2 linked regions of the Homo sapiens genome follow. The protein of the gene in region 1 interacts with the protein of each later gene in a biochemical or structural test. Each region holds a gene or a part of one and is shown in the gene's direction. Other genes may lie near its edges.

Region 1 (8,112 bases):
AAGAGGAGTGGCTGCCTCGAGCCACTCACCTGGACACTCAGTTTTGCTCTCACAGCAGCAGCCAAGGAATAAACCTCTAGGCCCGTGCTCTGTGTTTAAAGCAAACAAAAGCTTTTGAGGATGATAAGGATCTTCCCGGGGAAGGCCATGTCTTGAGAGATGAGGTAGGACCCCAGTTCTGGCAGCAGAGTTTCAGGAGGTGCTTGGAAGTTTGCGTGTTCTGGCCGTGGTTGCAGGTGTCGCTGTGTCTGCTGTGGCTGTGCAGCTGGTAGGACCCAGTGGAAGATAATGCCAGTGCACAGATCAGAGGAAGATGCTCTGCCTGTTCTCCTTTCAGTCCATATAAAATAGAGCTGTGAACATTCTTTGTTTTCAGATGAGAGCCTAAAACCTCCATGAAGCCTTTGCTGCTGTTCCTAGTAAATAGCTTGACTTAAAATACATTGATCAGTGTTTTCTTCTTTTTTTTTTTGAGACAGTTTCACTCTGTCGCCCAGGCTGGAGTGTTGTGGCTTGAACAAGGCTCACTGCAGCCTCAACCTCCCTGGCTCAAGCGATCTTCCCACCTCAGCCTCCCGAGTAGTTGGGACTACAGGCACGCACCACCACGACCGGCATTTTTTTTTTGGTGATGGGGTATCGCTGTGTGTTGCCCAGGCTGGTCTCAAACTGCTGAACTCGAGTGGTCCTCCTACCTCCCAAAGTGCTCGGCTTACAGGTGTGAGCCACTGCACCTGGCCAGTGTTTTCTTCTTTTATCTGAATATCAGAAAGATTTCCAAGAGACCAAAATAATATACATCTGCAAAGATGTGTGGATTGGCCAGGCACGGTGGCTCACGCCTGTAATCCCAGCACTTTGGGAGGCCGAGGCGGGTGGATTATGAGGTCAGGAGATCAAGACCATCCTGGCTAACATGGTGAAACCCCATCTCTACTGAAAAGACAAAAAATTAGCCTGGCATGGTGGCAGGTGCCTGTAGTCCCAGCTGCTCAGGAGGCTGAGGCAGGAGAATGGCATGAACCTGGGAGGCGGAGCTTGCAGTGAGCCGAGATCGCACCACTGCACCCCAGTCTGGGCGACAGAGCAAGACTCCGTCTCAAAAAAAAAAATGTGTGGATTAAACTACAGAGTCCTCCCCTTTGGTTTAATTTTTCCTTTGATTGGCTAAACTTATCTGTTTGTTCATGAGGGTGGTGCTGACAAGAAGAAAGACTGATAGAAAGAAAAGAACTTTCCTAAAGATATAGTCCTTGAATTTTTGCCTTAAGAGGCCAGGTTAACTATTCAAGTTTGTATCTACTATGTTTTATTTAAAAACTGATGGAGGTTTTTGCCCCTTTCTTTTCTGTAAGAGGTTTCTTGGCAATTCTGCCTGTTGTTGAAAGTGTTGGAATCCAGTCTGTGCCTTGTAAAGCTGCTTTAAGTTTCCTGGGAGTTTCCATTCCAGGCACAGTTACGGCTCCAGTTCAAAGGTAACATCTTGCTGGTGGTCCTTTCAGACCTTAAGCCAGTCACAGTACAAAAACGGAGACCTATGAAGAGGTGTGATAAAAGGCATTTAGATGAATATATTTATTTTGCAGTGCTTTTTAAAAAAATGATTGTGTCACTTTTTATTTATTTATTTTTTTAAAATAGAGACCGTCTTGCTCTGTTGCCCAGGCTGGACCGCGGTGGTATAATCATAGCTCACTGCAGCCTCGAACTCATGGACACAAGTGATCTTCCTTCCTTAACCCCCTGAGTCCCTGGGACTACAGGTGTGTGCCACCATGTCTGGCTAACTTTCTTCTTTTGTAGAGACAAGGTCTTGCTATGTTGCCCAGGCTGGTCTCGACCTCCTGGGCTCTGGCAGTCCTTCCACCTTGACCTCCCAAAGTGCTGGGATTACAGGCATGAGCCACTGCACCCAGCCTATTTTGCAGCTTTTATAACTATACTTCATAATGCTCTTTCATCAAAGAAAATGGAAGAATGAATTTTAAACTTTTGTATCCCTTTTGAAATTTAAAATTAACATGTATGGAAAGTATGATATAAAGTTTTCCTTTTTTTTTTTTTTTTTTGAGCTAGGGACTCACTGTGTCACCCAGGCTGAAGGGTAGTGGTGCTGTCATAGCTCACGACAGCCTCAACCTCCCAGGCTGACGCAATCCTCCTGCCTCAGCCTCCTGAGTAGTTGGGACTACAGGTGTGCACCACCATGCCTGGCTGATTTTTGTATTTTTTGTAGAAACGAGATCCCCCTGTTGCTCAGGCTGGCCTCGAATTCCTGGGCTCAAGTGGTCCTCCCGCCTTGGCCTCTTAAAGTGTTGGGAGTACAGGCGTAAGCCACCATATCTGGCCAGTTTTTCTTTCTTAATAGAAGAGTTGGCTCTTCCTGGATCTAGGGATGGTTTACAGGAAAACATTGAGTATCTGTGGGTCTGGTAGCATATCACAGCAGTGGTCAGGTTCCGCACTGTCCCTGTTGTTGTGGCGCGGGTCTGCGGCAGCAATGGGCCCTGTGAGTAGAGGATCCCAGGGGAGGGAGTGGCCATCTAGACATACTCCATCAGCTCGCAGCCAGGCCATCCAGGGTTCTCACTCTGTCCCCTGCCCCCCAGAACAGTTCCTCAGGGACAGGTGTTCTCTGCTGGGGTGGGGTGTAGGGGAGAGAGAGTCCTTGGGATTTAAGTGACATAAAATCATGTTCAATGTTTCTCTTTTTCCTTAGTTTTCCTGATTGCAGCTAGGACTTTGAATATATGGATTTTATGCTGATTTTCTCTTTTTCTTTTCCAGCTCCAATTAAGGAACAGCTATATCCTGCTTCCTTCTGTAAGCAGCATCGACTTGTGCAAGGGTTCAGTCATGCAGCCACCGCCCCAGACGGTCCCGTCTGGCATGGCTGGGCCACCTCCAGCCGGGAATCCTCGGAGCGTGTTCTGGGCTAGCAGCCCTTACAGGAGACGGGCTAATAATAATGCAGCAGTGGCTCCGACAACTTGCCCGTTGCAGCCGGTCACGGATCCATTTGCTTTTAGTAGACAGGCGCTCCAAAGTACACCACTGGGCAGTTCGTCCAAAAGCAGTCCACCTGTCTTGCAAGGCCCAGCCCCCGCAGGGTTTTCTCAGCACCCCGGTTTGCTTGTTCCTCACACACATGCCAGAGATAGCTCTCAGGGACCCTGTGAGCCCCTGCCTGGACCTCTGACACAGCCCAGAGCACATGCCAGTCCGTTTTCTGGTGCATTGACACCTTCAGCACCTCCTGGGCCTGAGATGAACAGGAGTGCAGAGGTCGGTCCCAGTTCAGAGCCTGAAGTTCAGACTCTGCCATATCTTCCTCACTACATTCCAGGAGTGGATCCTGAAACGTCTCATGGGGGCCACCCTCATGGGAACATGCCTGGGCTCGACCGACCCCTGAGCAGGCAAAACCCACATGACGGTGTGGTCACCCCAGCAGCATCCCCTTCCCTCCCTCAGCCTGGTCTGCAGATGCCAGGACAGTGGGGGCCAGTGCAGGGAGGCCCACAGCCCTCGGGGCAACATCGTTCACCCTGCCCTGAAGGACCTGTTCCCAGCGGGGTGCCCTGTGCCACCAGCGTTCCTCATTTCCCCACCCCGTCCATCCTACATCAGGGCCCTGGTCATGAGCAACACAGCCCTCTGGTGGCTCCCCCAGCAGCCTTGCCCAGTGACGGAAGAGACGAGGTGAGCCACTTGCAAAGTGGAAGCCACCTGGCCAATAACTCTGATCCTGAAAGTACATTCAGGCAAAATCCCAGAATTGTGAATCACTGGGCAAGCCCAGAGCTCAGGCAGAATCCAGGAGTGAAGAATGAGCACCGGCCCGCCTCTGCTCTTGTGAACCCCCTCGCCCGGGGAGATAGCCCAGAAAACCGTACGCACCACCCACTGGGGGCTGGGGCCGGGTCTGGCTGTGCCCCGCTAGAAGCAGACTCAGGAGCTTCAGGAGCTCTGGCGATGTTTTTCCAAGGGGGAGAGACAGAAAATGAGGAGAATCTCTCATCTGAAAAAGCAGGCTTATCTGGTCAAGCGGACTTTGACGATTTCTGCTCCAGCCCTGGGCTAGGCCGTCCGCCCGCACCTACACACGTGGGGGCAGGCAGCCTCTGCCAGGCCCTTCTCCCAGGCCCCAGCAATGAGGCTGCTGGTGATGTGTGGGGTGACACAGCGAGCACAGGGGTGCCGGATGCCAGCGGCTCGCAGTATGAGAATGTTGAGAACTTAGAATTTGTTCAGAATCAAGAAGTTCTGCCAAGTGAGCCCCTCAATTTGGACCCTTCCTCCCCGAGTGACCAGTTCAGATATGGGCCCCTTCCTGGGCCAGCTGTGCCCAGGCATGGTGCTGTGTGCCACACCGGAGCCCCTGATGCCACACTGCATACAGTGCACCCTGACAGCGTGTCATCCAGCTATAGCAGCAGAAGCCACGGAAGGCTCTCAGGCTCAGCCAGGCCCCAGGAGCTGGTTGGCACATTCATTCAGCAAGAAGTTGGAAAACCCGAGGATGAAGCTTCAGGTAGTTTTTTTAAGCAAATCGATTCTTCTCCCGTAGGAGGTGAAACAGACGAGACCACTGTGAGCCAGAATTACCGTGGCAGCGTGTCCCAGCCCTCAACCCCGAGCCCCCCGAAACCTACAGGAATATTTCAGACAAGTGCAAATAGTTCTTTCGAACCGGTAAAATCTCACTTAGTTGGGGTAAAACCATTTGAGGCAGATCGCGCCAACGTGGTTGGTGAAGTAAGGGAGACCTGTGTCCGCCAGAAGCAGTGCAGACCAGCTGCCGCCCTGCCCGATGCTTCCCCTGGCAACCTGGAGCAGCCACCAGACAACATGGAGACCCTCTGTGCACCCCAGGTCTGTCCCCTGCCTCTTAACTCCACCACGGAAGCTGTGCACATGCTTCCGCACGCAGGGGCACCGCCCTTGGATACTGTGTATCCAGCACCCGAGAAGAGGCCTTCAGCCAGGACCCAGGGGCCCGTGAAGTGTGAGAGCCCAGCAACGACTCTGTGGGCGCAAAGTGAGCTGCCAGATTTTGGAGGCAACGTCCTTCTGGCCCCTGCAGCCCCGGCGCTTTATGTGTGTGCAAAACCTCAGCCACCTGTTGTTCAGCCTCCAGAAGAGGCGATGTCCGGGCAGCAGTCACGGAACCCAAGCTCGGCGGCCCCGGTGCAGAGCCGAGGTGGCATTGGTGCTTCTGAGAACCTTGAGAATCCTCCCAAAATGGGAGAGGAGGAGGCCCTTCAGTCCCAGGCGAGTTCTGGTTATGCAAGTTTATTATCCTCACCGCCCACTGAGTCTCTGCAGAATCCTCCAGTCTTGATTGCTCAGCCTGATCACAGCTATAATCTGGCTCAGCCCATTAACTTTTCTGTGTCCTTATCGAACTCTCATGAGAAGAATCAGTCCTGGAGAGAGGCTTTGGTGGGGGATAGACCTGCAGTCAGCAGTTGGGCTCTCGGTGGTGATTCTGGGGAGAACACTTCTTTGTCTGGGATTCCAACCAGCTCTGTCCTTAGCTTGTCTCTGCCTAGCAGTGTTGCCCAAAGTAATTTTCCACAAGGTTCTGGTGCTTCCGAAATGGTTTCTAATCAGCCTGCTAATTTGCTGGTTCAACCACCATCCCAGCCAGTTCCAGAGAACTTGGTTCCAGAAAGTCAAAAGGATCGTAAGGCAGGAAGTGCTCTTCCCGGATTTGCTAATAGCCCTGCTGGAAGCACAAGTGTGGTGTTAGTTCCACCTGCACACGGCACCCTGGTGCCTGATGGTAATAAGGCAAACCATTCCAGTCATCAGGAAGACACTTACGGAGCCCTAGACTTTACCTTAAGCAGGACTTTGGAAAATCCTGTAAACGTGTACAACCCGTCCCATTCTGACAGCCTCGCTTCTCAGCAAAGTGTTGCCAGTCATCCCAGACAATCTGGGCCTGGGGCGCCTAACCTTGACCGTTTTTATCAGCAGGTCACGAAAGATGCCCAGGGCCAGCCTGGCCTCGAAAGAGCCCAGCAGGAGCTGGTGCCACCCCAGCAACAGGCTTCTCCCCCACAACTACCCAAAGCCATGTTTTCGGAGCTGTCAAATCCAGAAAGTCTGCCCGCACAGGGACAGGCCCAGAACTCAGCACAGTCACCAGCAAGTCTGGTTCTGGTCGACGCGGGTCAGCAGCTGCCCCCTCGGCCTCCTCAGTCCTCTAGCGTGTCTCTGGTGTCCAGTGGCTCCGGCCAGGCAGCTGTGCCGTCAGAGCAGCCGTGGCCACAGCCAGTGCCTGCACTTGCCCCCGGCCCACCGCCTCAGGACCTGGCCGCCTACTACTACTACCGGCCTTTGTACGATGCCTACCAGCCTCAGTACTCTTTGCCGTACCCACCGGAGCCTGGCGCAGCCTCCCTCTATTACCAGGTAAGAGTCGAGTCGTATGTGTAACCCACTTTTCTGTCTGTGCTTTGACCAGTTGAGTCTCACTCACAGTGTATTCCTTAGTAGTGTTTGTTCGCTTGGTTCCGGGGTCACCCACAGTCCCGCAGGCGTGAGAACAGTATTCCAGTAACGCTTCCTGAGGACAGGGCTCCCGGCTCCAGAACCTACTCTCCCAAGCACAGGCCACCCTTAGTTCACACCACGCGTTAGCATCTTGAATTGCTTATAATACTTGCTTAGGATTTGAACCAGCCTCCCCAGCTTATGTGACAAAAAGAGCCCTCCATTTGCTGTCACCCCTGCTCCTGCTGGCTGTCTGCAGAAAAGTTCTGTCTTGCATGCCTTGGGAAGCTGGGCTAGCCTCTGGAAGCTTACGTCAGAAGCATTGGGTATAACCATAGTCCTTTAAATGCCCCTGGAGAATAAAAACATGGAGAGAAAATAGTTTTGGAGCATGAGCCACACGCATCAGCTAAGCGAGGCGGAGTCCCGCAAGCTGCTGTCAGCACGTGGTGGTGCGGGCAGCGGCTCGGGGACCGGCTGTGCTCGTGCAGAAGATTCTTCTGTGCCTCTTTTTCACAGGGACACCAGCTCATGAGTGACATTTGAGTTAGGTTCCGCATAATCCTGCAGTCGTTCGAAAAGTGTCTGTGTACACATTTGATCATTATCTGCTTTTCCTACCCTCTAACCCAGTTCAACATACACCGATTGGGTTCACCGATTCAGTGTCACCCCAGGTAGAAGGATTGTGTGATAGGGAATTGGAAAACCATGGTCTTGCGGTATGTAAGGCCAGTTGGAACCAGACTTGGGGCCACACAGGAAGGCCTTGCAGTCAGAAGGGGGCCCGCCCCGAGGAGCAAGGCTGCCGTGGCTTGCTGGGTACTGCCCCGGGGAATGGGGCTGGGCCTCCCCCATGGGCCTCGAGCATCATGGTTTGTGTGCGTGTGACCAGGTGCACACCTGACCCCTCAGACCTGTGTAGGTTCCAGAAGGAGCCCAGGCACTTTTTATTTCCATACAAGGACATTCAGCTCTGCTGGGAGCCCTGGGGTGGGGCTGGTGCAGAGCGACGGGAAGCCGTGGCCTCACTTCGGGTCCTTTGTCCGGTCCTCCTGCTGCGAGCCACCTCCCTCCGCAGGAGTGCACTCCTCCCGCCGTGCCTCTTGCTGTGGTGTCCGGGTGGCCAAGGATGAGTCTGTTTTGCTGTGATTTCACATTTCCTGCCAGGCAGCGGCAGCGTCGAGGCCTTGAGGCTTTGAGGCGCTTAAGCGTGAATTCTGGCGTGTGTCCGGGGCACTGCATGTCTTCAGATCCTCATGTGTCCACATGGGCCCCGTTGGGAACAATTCTGTGGCCACGAATTGGTTGGTGATGGGGCTGAAGCCTCCCGAGAATAAAGCACGGTCCGCTTTTAGAGGCTGCTCCTGGCTGGGGCTCTGTTCACTGGGACCCTGGTTCTCTGACTTAACTGAGGTGGCATCTGAAGCGGGACGCAGGGGTTGTTCAAATCATGGCATCTCCACACTGGACTTATCAGGAAGCAGAAACCTAACAGCCCCTTCCAGAAGTCGCCACAGCCCCCTGGGGTTGTCTGCTGACATGCTGGTGCCCTGGGTCCATCCAGAGGTCTCCTGAACAGGGCCAGGGCTGTGGGTCTTAGGACAC
Region 2 (8,112 bases), on another chromosome or scaffold:
TCTTACAGGAGACGGATTTTGTTTGTTTTGATGGAGGAAGAGATGATTTTCATAATTATAATGTAGAAGAACTTTTAGGGTTTTTGGAACTGTACAATTCTGCAGCTACAGATTCTGAGAAAGCTGTAGAAAAAACTTTACAGGATATGGAAAAAAACCCTGAATTATCTAAGGAAAGGGAACCTGAACCTGAACCAGTAGAAGCCAACTCAGAGGAAAGTGATAGTGTATTCTCAGAAAACACTGAGGATCTTCAGGAACAGTTTACAACTCAGAAGCACCACTCCCATGCAAACAGCCAAGCAAATCATGCTCAGGGAGAGCAGGCTTCATTTGAATCTTTTGAAGAAATGCTGCAAGATAAACTAAAAGTGCCAGAAAGTGAAAACAACAAAACCAGCAATAGTTCTCAGGTCTCAAATGAACAGGATAAGATTGATGCCTATAAACTTTTGAAAAAAGAAATGACTCTAGACTTGAAAACCAAATTTGGCTCAACAGCTGATGCACTTGTATCTGATGATGAGACAACCAGACTCGTTACTTCATTAGAAGATGATTTTGATGAGGAATTGGATACTGAGTATTATGCAGTTGGAAAGGAAGATGAGGAGAACCAAGAAGACTTTGATGAGTTGCCATTACTTACCTTTACAGATGGGGAAGATATGAAAACTCCAGCAAAGTCTGGCGTTGAGAAATATCCAACAGATAAAGAGCAGAATTCAAATGAAGAGGACAAGGTTCAGCTAACTGTGCCCCCTGGCATCAAAAATGATGATAAAAATATACTAACAACCTGGGGGGACACTATCTTCTCTATTGTCACAGGAGGTGAAGAAACAAGAGATACGATGGATTTAGAGAGCTCTAGTTCAGAGGAAGAAAAAGAAGATGATGATGATGCATTAGTCCCAGATAGCAAACAGGGGAAACCACAGTCAGCAACAGATTATAGTGACCCTGACAATGTAGATGATGGTCTTTTTATTGTAGACATTCCTAAAACAAATAATGACAAAGAAGTAAACGCAGAACATCACATTAAAGGAAAAGGGAGGGGAGTTCAGGAATCCAAGAGGGGCCTGGTACAAGATAAGACAGAATTAGAGGATGAAAATCAAGAAGGCATGACTGTGCACAGTTCTGTTCACAGCAATAACCTCAACTCTATGCCAGCTGCTGAAAAGGGTAAAGACACATTAAAATCAGCTTATGATGATACAGAAAATGACCTAAAAGGAGCAGCTATTCATATCTCAAAAGGAATGCTCCACGAAGAAAAGCCTGGAGAGCAGATTTTGGAAGGTGGCTCAGAGAGTGAATCTGCACAGAAAGCTGCAGGGAATCAAATGAATGACAGAAAGATTCAACAGGAATCCCTGGGTAGTGCACCACTCATGGGAGATGACCACCCTAACGCATCCAGAGACAGTGTGGAGGGAGACGCTTTGGTAAATGGGGCCAAACTGCACACGCTTTCAGTGGAGCATCAACGTGAGGAATTGAAAGAGGAATTAGTTCTTAAAACTCAAAACCAACCTAGATTCTCCTCTCCAGATGAGATTGATTTGCCCAGAGAACTGGAAGACGAGGTTCCCATTCTGGGAAGAAATCTTCCCTGGCAACAAGAAAGAGATGTGGCTGCCACAGCCAGTAAGCAAATGAGTGAGAAGATAAGGCTCTCTGAGGGAGAAGCCAAAGAGGACTCCTTGGATGAAGAGTTTTTTCATCACAAGGCAATGCAGGGCACAGAGGTAGGACAGACAGACCAAACTGACAGCACAGGAGGACCAGCTTTCCTTTCTAAAGTAGAAGAGGATGATTATCCCTCTGAAGAACTACTAGAGGATGAAAACGCTATAAATGCAAAACGGTCTAAAGAAAAAAACCCTGGGAATCAGGGCAGGCAGTTTGATGTTAATCTGCAAGTCCCTGACAGAGCAGTTTTAGGGACCATTCATCCAGATCCAGAAATTGAAGAAAGCAAGCAAGAAACTAGTATGATTTTGGATAGCGAAAAAACAAGTGAGACTGCTGCCAAAGGGGTCAACACAGGAGGCAGGGAACCAAATACAATGGTGGAAAAAGAACGCCCTCTGGCAGATAAGAAAGCACAGAGACCATTTGAACGAAGTGACTTTTCTGACAGCATAAAAATTCAGACTCCAGAATTAGGTGAAGTGTTTCAGAATAAAGATTCTGATTATCTGAAGAACGACAACCCTGAGGAACATCTGAAGACCTCAGGGCTTGCAGGGGAGCCTGAGGGAGAACTCTCAAAAGAGGACCATGAGAACACAGAGAAGTACATGGGCACAGAAAGCCAGGGGTCTGCTGCTGCAGAACCTGAAGATGACTCGTTCCACTGGACTCCACATACAAGTGTAGAGCCAGGGCATAGTGACAAGAGGGAGGACTTACTTATCATAAGCAGCTTCTTTAAAGAACAACAGTCTTTGCAGCGGTTCCAGAAGTACTTTAATGTCCATGAGCTGGAAGCCTTGCTACAAGAAATGTCATCAAAACTGAAGTCAGCGCAGCAGGAGAGCCTGCCCTATAATATGGAAAAAGTCCTAGATAAGGTCTTCCGTGCTTCTGAGTCACAAATTCTGAGCATAGCAGAAAAAATGCTTGATACTCGTGTGGCTGAAAATAGAGATCTGGGAATGAACGAAAATAACATATTTGAAGAGGCTGCAGTGCTTGATGACATTCAAGACCTCATCTATTTTGTCAGGTACAAGCACTCCACAGCAGAGGAGACAGCCACACTGGTGATGGCACCACCTCTAGAGGAAGGCTTGGGTGGAGCAATGGAAGGTGAGATGCCTATGGCCTTGTAGAACAGGGCTGGAGAAGCAGGTGGGTGGGTCGCTGAGGTGCCTCCTATCTTGTGAAGCTCTGTTCAGTTTCCAATGTGCCTAAAGGAGAGGGACAACACAGGGAGGTCCACATGTTCCTTCCTGCCATCTTTCTTTTAGGCTGGAGCATGGAGAAGAATTTCTTGCCGTTTCCCTTAGAATAGTTGAGACTGGTTAGCATTTTCAAAAGGAAACTTTGTAAAAAGCTAAAGAGAAAGATATAAACCAGAAAGTAATATACAAAATACAAATGTCATGTAAAATTATGAAAGGGTTTTATTGAACACAATTTTTCAGTCGTCAGATAACTGCTCTGTAACCATGGATTGACTGGTATAACTTTTAGATCAATGCCTTGGCTAAATTCCTACGTTCTCCCCAATTTTATCTTTTGTGGATGGCTTGTTCTTCCTGTTTCTTGGGAGCACTTACTCCAGTTAAACCCTCCTGGGCCGTAAGGTTCTTGCATGCAGATTAATCAAGATTGGGACAGGGATGCCTTCGAATGCAGTGCTTGATGCGTGGAAGCCATTCAGTTGAATTAACCCCGAGCCAATATCCTGACATAAGCATTCTGATTCCTAGTTCCTTGTTCTATTCTCTGCATCCAGGCTTTTCTCTTTCTTTTCTTTTCTTTTCTTTCCCTTTGCCCACCTGCCCTTCCTTCCTTCCTTCCTCTTTCTTTTTTTCTTTTCTTTTTTTTTTTCTTAAGACAGGCTCTCACCCTGTCACCCAGGCTGGAGTACAGTGGCATGATCATAACTCATTGCAGCCTCCAACTCCTAGGCCCAAGCGAACCTCCCATCTCAGCCTCCTAAGTGGCTAGGACTACAGGCATGCATCACTGTGCCCAAATAATTTTTATTTATTGTAGAGACAGGGTCTTGGTATGTTGCCCAGGTTGATCTTGAACTCTTGGCCTCAAGTGACCCTCCTACTTTGGCCTCCCAAAGTACTGGGATTACAGGTGTGAGCTACCGCACCTGGTATATCCAGGCTTTTCAGACAGATGTATCTGAATTGAGAGTACCAAGGGGACAGGAAGCCACAGGAAAACGTATTACTCCAGAGTGCTAATTTTTCCTAAGAAATGGGGGAGGAGAACTTTTTTGCATTTAATTAAAACATATATTTTGGATAAGAAGGCAATATTCAGATGAATTTTCAGGGTAAAATATGAGGCTACAAGGAAATTCACCTTTGCTGTGGATCACATTGGACTGTCCCCTAAGCCTCTTAGGAGAGGAGATGGCTTCACTTTGTTTGACTCTTAGAGGTACTTTGAAAGTATTCGAAAGACATCTCAGCAAGCTGCCTTGGCGTGGAATGTCCCTGTCTGTACTAGTTCTGTGAGAAAGGCATGCTAGGGTATGCAAGAGTTCATGTTACTTCTCTGCAGAATAGATGTTTCACATTTCTGCTCTTGAGTGGAATTCTCATTTGCACATTTATTTGTGTGGGTGTAGGCTGATTTGCCAAGGAAAGATGTTACTGAAGTCCCTACCATAAATGTATTTATTTATGAAATACTCCTCTGTAGATTTTATTATGTAGATTAGTCATCCTTTAAATGGAATAAAAGAAACTGAAACTCTTATTTCCCTGCCCAGTTGTGCTCCATGGGATGCCCATGCATGGAGGTCAATGTTGAGGTGCCCTGGTGTGGTCAGTGGGATTAGCCTAACAGGTAGTGTCATCAAGCTGTGCTAGCCCAGTGTATTCTTCTCACCCTAGAGATGCAACCACTGCATGAAGATAATTTCTCACGAGAGAAGACAGCAGAACTTAATGTGCAGGTTCCTGAAGAACCCACCCACTTGGACCAACGTGTGATTGGGGACACTCATGCCTCAGAAGTGTCACAGAAGCCAAATACTGAGAAAGACCTGGACCCAGGTAAAGCCTGCTAATTTTTTTCTACAAAGTGGAGAAATCATAAAGAAGGCCTTCTAGGAGATTCATTGTCAAAGGCAGGAGCTAGAGACTTGTTAAATTCAAAGGAAAAAAGGATCCCAGAGCTAATTGAGAGAAAAGCAGGCGTCAAGACAGATGGAGATCAAAAATAGGAAAGACACCAGAGACTATAACTAACCTACAAACCAATGTTTGGCTGTCACTATCTTGTGTAAATTATTTCAATCTAAAATATTATTCTTAAAAGGCCTTATGCTCTAAAACAGTAGTTTTCAACCAGCCCAGCAGCATCAGAAACTCTGGGGGTGGAACCGGCAATCTGTGTTTAACAAGCCCTCCAGGAAAGACTGACCTGATGCAAATTACAGTTGGAGAACCACTGCTCTAAAACTCACAAATTCTGTTTTTCCTCTACTTTACCCCTCTCTTTCCAAATAAAATACAATGCAATGCAGTTCTTTTTTTTGATTTGCTATCTGGACATGGTAAGTAAAACTTCTTAAAATACAGTGAAGGGGTCCAAGTATGTTTATAGCATAAGCTCATAGGAGACAGTACAGAACACTGTAGTGTGTAATAGTCCAGGATAGACCGACACAAAGAGTATTTCACCACAGTGCACAGTAAACATCCAGTGAGAGATGAGAACGTTTACTTTCCAGGCACAGTGCCTAATATTTAGTGGATACTCAATAAGTATTTTTTAAAGAGAATTCTTATTCTAAAGCACAAAATGTCTATCTTTCCTCCCAATTCCAGGGCCAGTTACAACAGAAGACACTCCTATGGATGCTATTGATGCAAACAAGCAACCAGAGACAGCCGCCGAAGAGCCGGCAAGTGTCACACCTTTGGAAAACGCAATCCTTCTAATATATTCATTCATGTTTTATTTAACTAAGTCGGTAAGTTTAACATAGTTTTTTTTTAACTAAAATGTTGATTATTACAGTTTTTAAGTTGATTTTGAGCATGAGGTGAAGAACTTAAAATGTCTTTATGAACCTGACTCCTGATCCTTTGAAGAGAGACCCTGAAATGAGCCACAGGTGTGTGGCTTTAATGGGCTCTTAGTTCAGCACATGAGGAGGCTTTGCTGCATGCTGGAGCTGGGCACAAGCACACCTGTCAAACGTGGTTCTTCCTTTCAGGGACCTTTCAGTTTAGCCAGGAGAGAAAGACAGTCACTTGAAATGTAACATGATAATGGGCAGGAAGAGAAGTATTTACCTGATGGTAGAACAATCTGTGGCATAAATTGGTTCATCGTGGAGGGAGAGTGATAGGAAAGGCCAGAAATTCGCTGAGATATGCTTTAAGCAGATTCGAAAGAGATGGGAGCTTGACTTGGAGTTGTCAAATAGAAGGGCTAGGGGAAGGATGTGGGCAGGGGGGCGGGCAGCATGCAGTCAGGCAGAAGAAATAACACATTCAGAGAAATGGAGGCATGAAGAAAAGGTTATTTGGGGAAGCCAGGGAAGCGTGGGTAGTTGGTGTTTTTTCTTTTTCTTTTTTTTTTAAATTGAGACAGGGTCTTGCTCTGTTGCCCAGGCAGGAGTGCATTGGCGTGATCTCAGCTCACTGCAACCTCTGCCTCCTGGGCTCAGGCGATCCTCCTGCTTCAGTCTCCTGAGTAGCTGGGATCACAAGTGTGCACCACCATGCCTGGCTATTTTTTGTAGAGGTGGGGTTTTGTGATGTTGCCCAGGTTGGTCTCGAACTCCTGAGCCCATGGGAGCTGCCCACCTTGGCCTCCCAAAGTGCTGGGATTACAGGCGTGAGCCACCATTCCCGGCCAGTTGGTGTTGTTAAAGTGTGGAGTTAAAATTAGCTGGGCAGGGTGGTGCACACCTGTAATCCCATCTACTTGGGAGGCTGAGGCAGGAGAATAGCTTGAGCCCGGGAGGCAGAGGTTGCAATTAGCTGAGATCGTGCCACTGCATTCCAGCCTGAGCGACAGAGCAAGACCCTGCCTCAGAAAAAATAAAAATAAAAAAGTATGGAGTTAGGAGGGAGAAGGTCTGTTGGAGGGACTCAGGGAAAGTCAGAAAGGAAATTGTACACCATAGTGAGTGGTCAGACCATTGTTGGCAGAGATCCTTGGAAGATTTTAAGCAGGAAAGGGATTGTCAGGTCTGTTTCTTAGAAAGAGTCACTTATGGCAGAATATTTATTCAGATCTTTCTAAAGGGAGCCATGCTCCAAATGAGACATTTAATGTCTAGAAGCTTATCTAGGCTTTTTAGGACTTAGCTCCCCCTTGTGGTACTCGGTGGAATTGGACTTTTTTTCTTGGTAAATTAGAGGACTAAGCAAGCTCTTGAAGTTGGAGGCCAGGTTGCCCTTAGGGCTACAGAGAAAGTATGCTTCTCACCAAAGCCATTTCCTTTAGGTTCTGTTATTTCAAGACTCGAATAGGAAAGAGCGTTCTTGTTGTTTTTCTGTTAAAATCCATGGGTTTCAAGCCAAGATGATTTTATTTCAAATCCCAAAGCTATCGATTAGAAGTTTAGGGCAAATTACTAAACTTTGAACCTCAACTTTCTCATCTGAAAAATTTAGATAATACATACTCCAATTGTTGGTAAGAATTAAATGACATGATAATGTAAAATGTCTGGTGTAGCAACTGGCATTTTGTAAGATCTCATCCCTCACCTAATTCTCATTTGGATGGTCAGAGGGCATATAAAGACATTGAATACCTGAGGGTTTCAGGAGAAAGACCACCAGGATGGAAAACAAGTAGGAAAACCAAACCATTTTTCAGTATTATTCATGTTTGTTCTGGTGATAGCCACCTGGGTGAAGGTGTGTATTATCTTTGCAGTTGGAATAATGAAGTTTTCAGGGATTAAGACAGTCTCAGAATTCAGAATTTGGTTTTCAGAGTGAAATTATCACTTGAAAAATTTAACAGCCCCAGTTGTAGAAGGAATTCTTTATTCATTGTATTTCTAGATACGCACAGAGCCCTCTTCTAGGCCTGGGTTGGGGCATATAGGAGTGGTGTAGGATACGATCTGTGATCAGGGGATAACAGGGAATGACAGACATGAATGGCAAGATATAAGGGCGCAGTGTTATAAGATGCCGACTTGAGAGGGATTGTCAAAAGAGCATTTTGATGGCTAAATATGTACCAGAAATTGTGCTAGGAATACAAGATTCCAAGAGGTATAAAGTGTAATTCTGACTTTTGAAAGTCTTCAAAAAAAGTTTACCAAATACATGTGAAAATTGGAGAAAGTGGAGAATATAGGAAATAGTTTATGCAAAGTATCAAGTAGTTCATATAGATAATTGTTTCATAGGGTTTTGGAGTAATGGGGTG

Evidence for each region.
Region 2: the proteins of SEC16A (region 1) and MIA3 form a complex in vitro, tested with the Homo sapiens proteins (one study listed by BioGRID).

What each region holds. Positions count from the first base shown.
Region 1 is NC_000009.12:136,472,360-136,480,471, reverse strand, and holds part of SEC16A (protein transport protein Sec16A), read left to right. Parts: intron 1-1,641; 5' UTR 1,642-1,763; intron 1,764-2,787; 5' UTR 2,788-2,856; coding exon 2,857-6,423; intron 6,424-8,112. UniProt on the Homo sapiens protein: Acts as a molecular scaffold that plays a key role in the organization of the endoplasmic reticulum exit sites (ERES), also known as transitional endoplasmic reticulum (tER).
Region 2 is NC_000001.11:222,627,567-222,635,678, forward strand, and holds part of MIA3 (transport and Golgi organization protein 1 homolog isoform 1 precursor), read left to right. Parts: intron 1-8; coding exon 9-2,823; intron 2,824-4,598; coding exon 4,599-4,760; intron 4,761-5,537; coding exon 5,538-5,683; intron 5,684-8,112.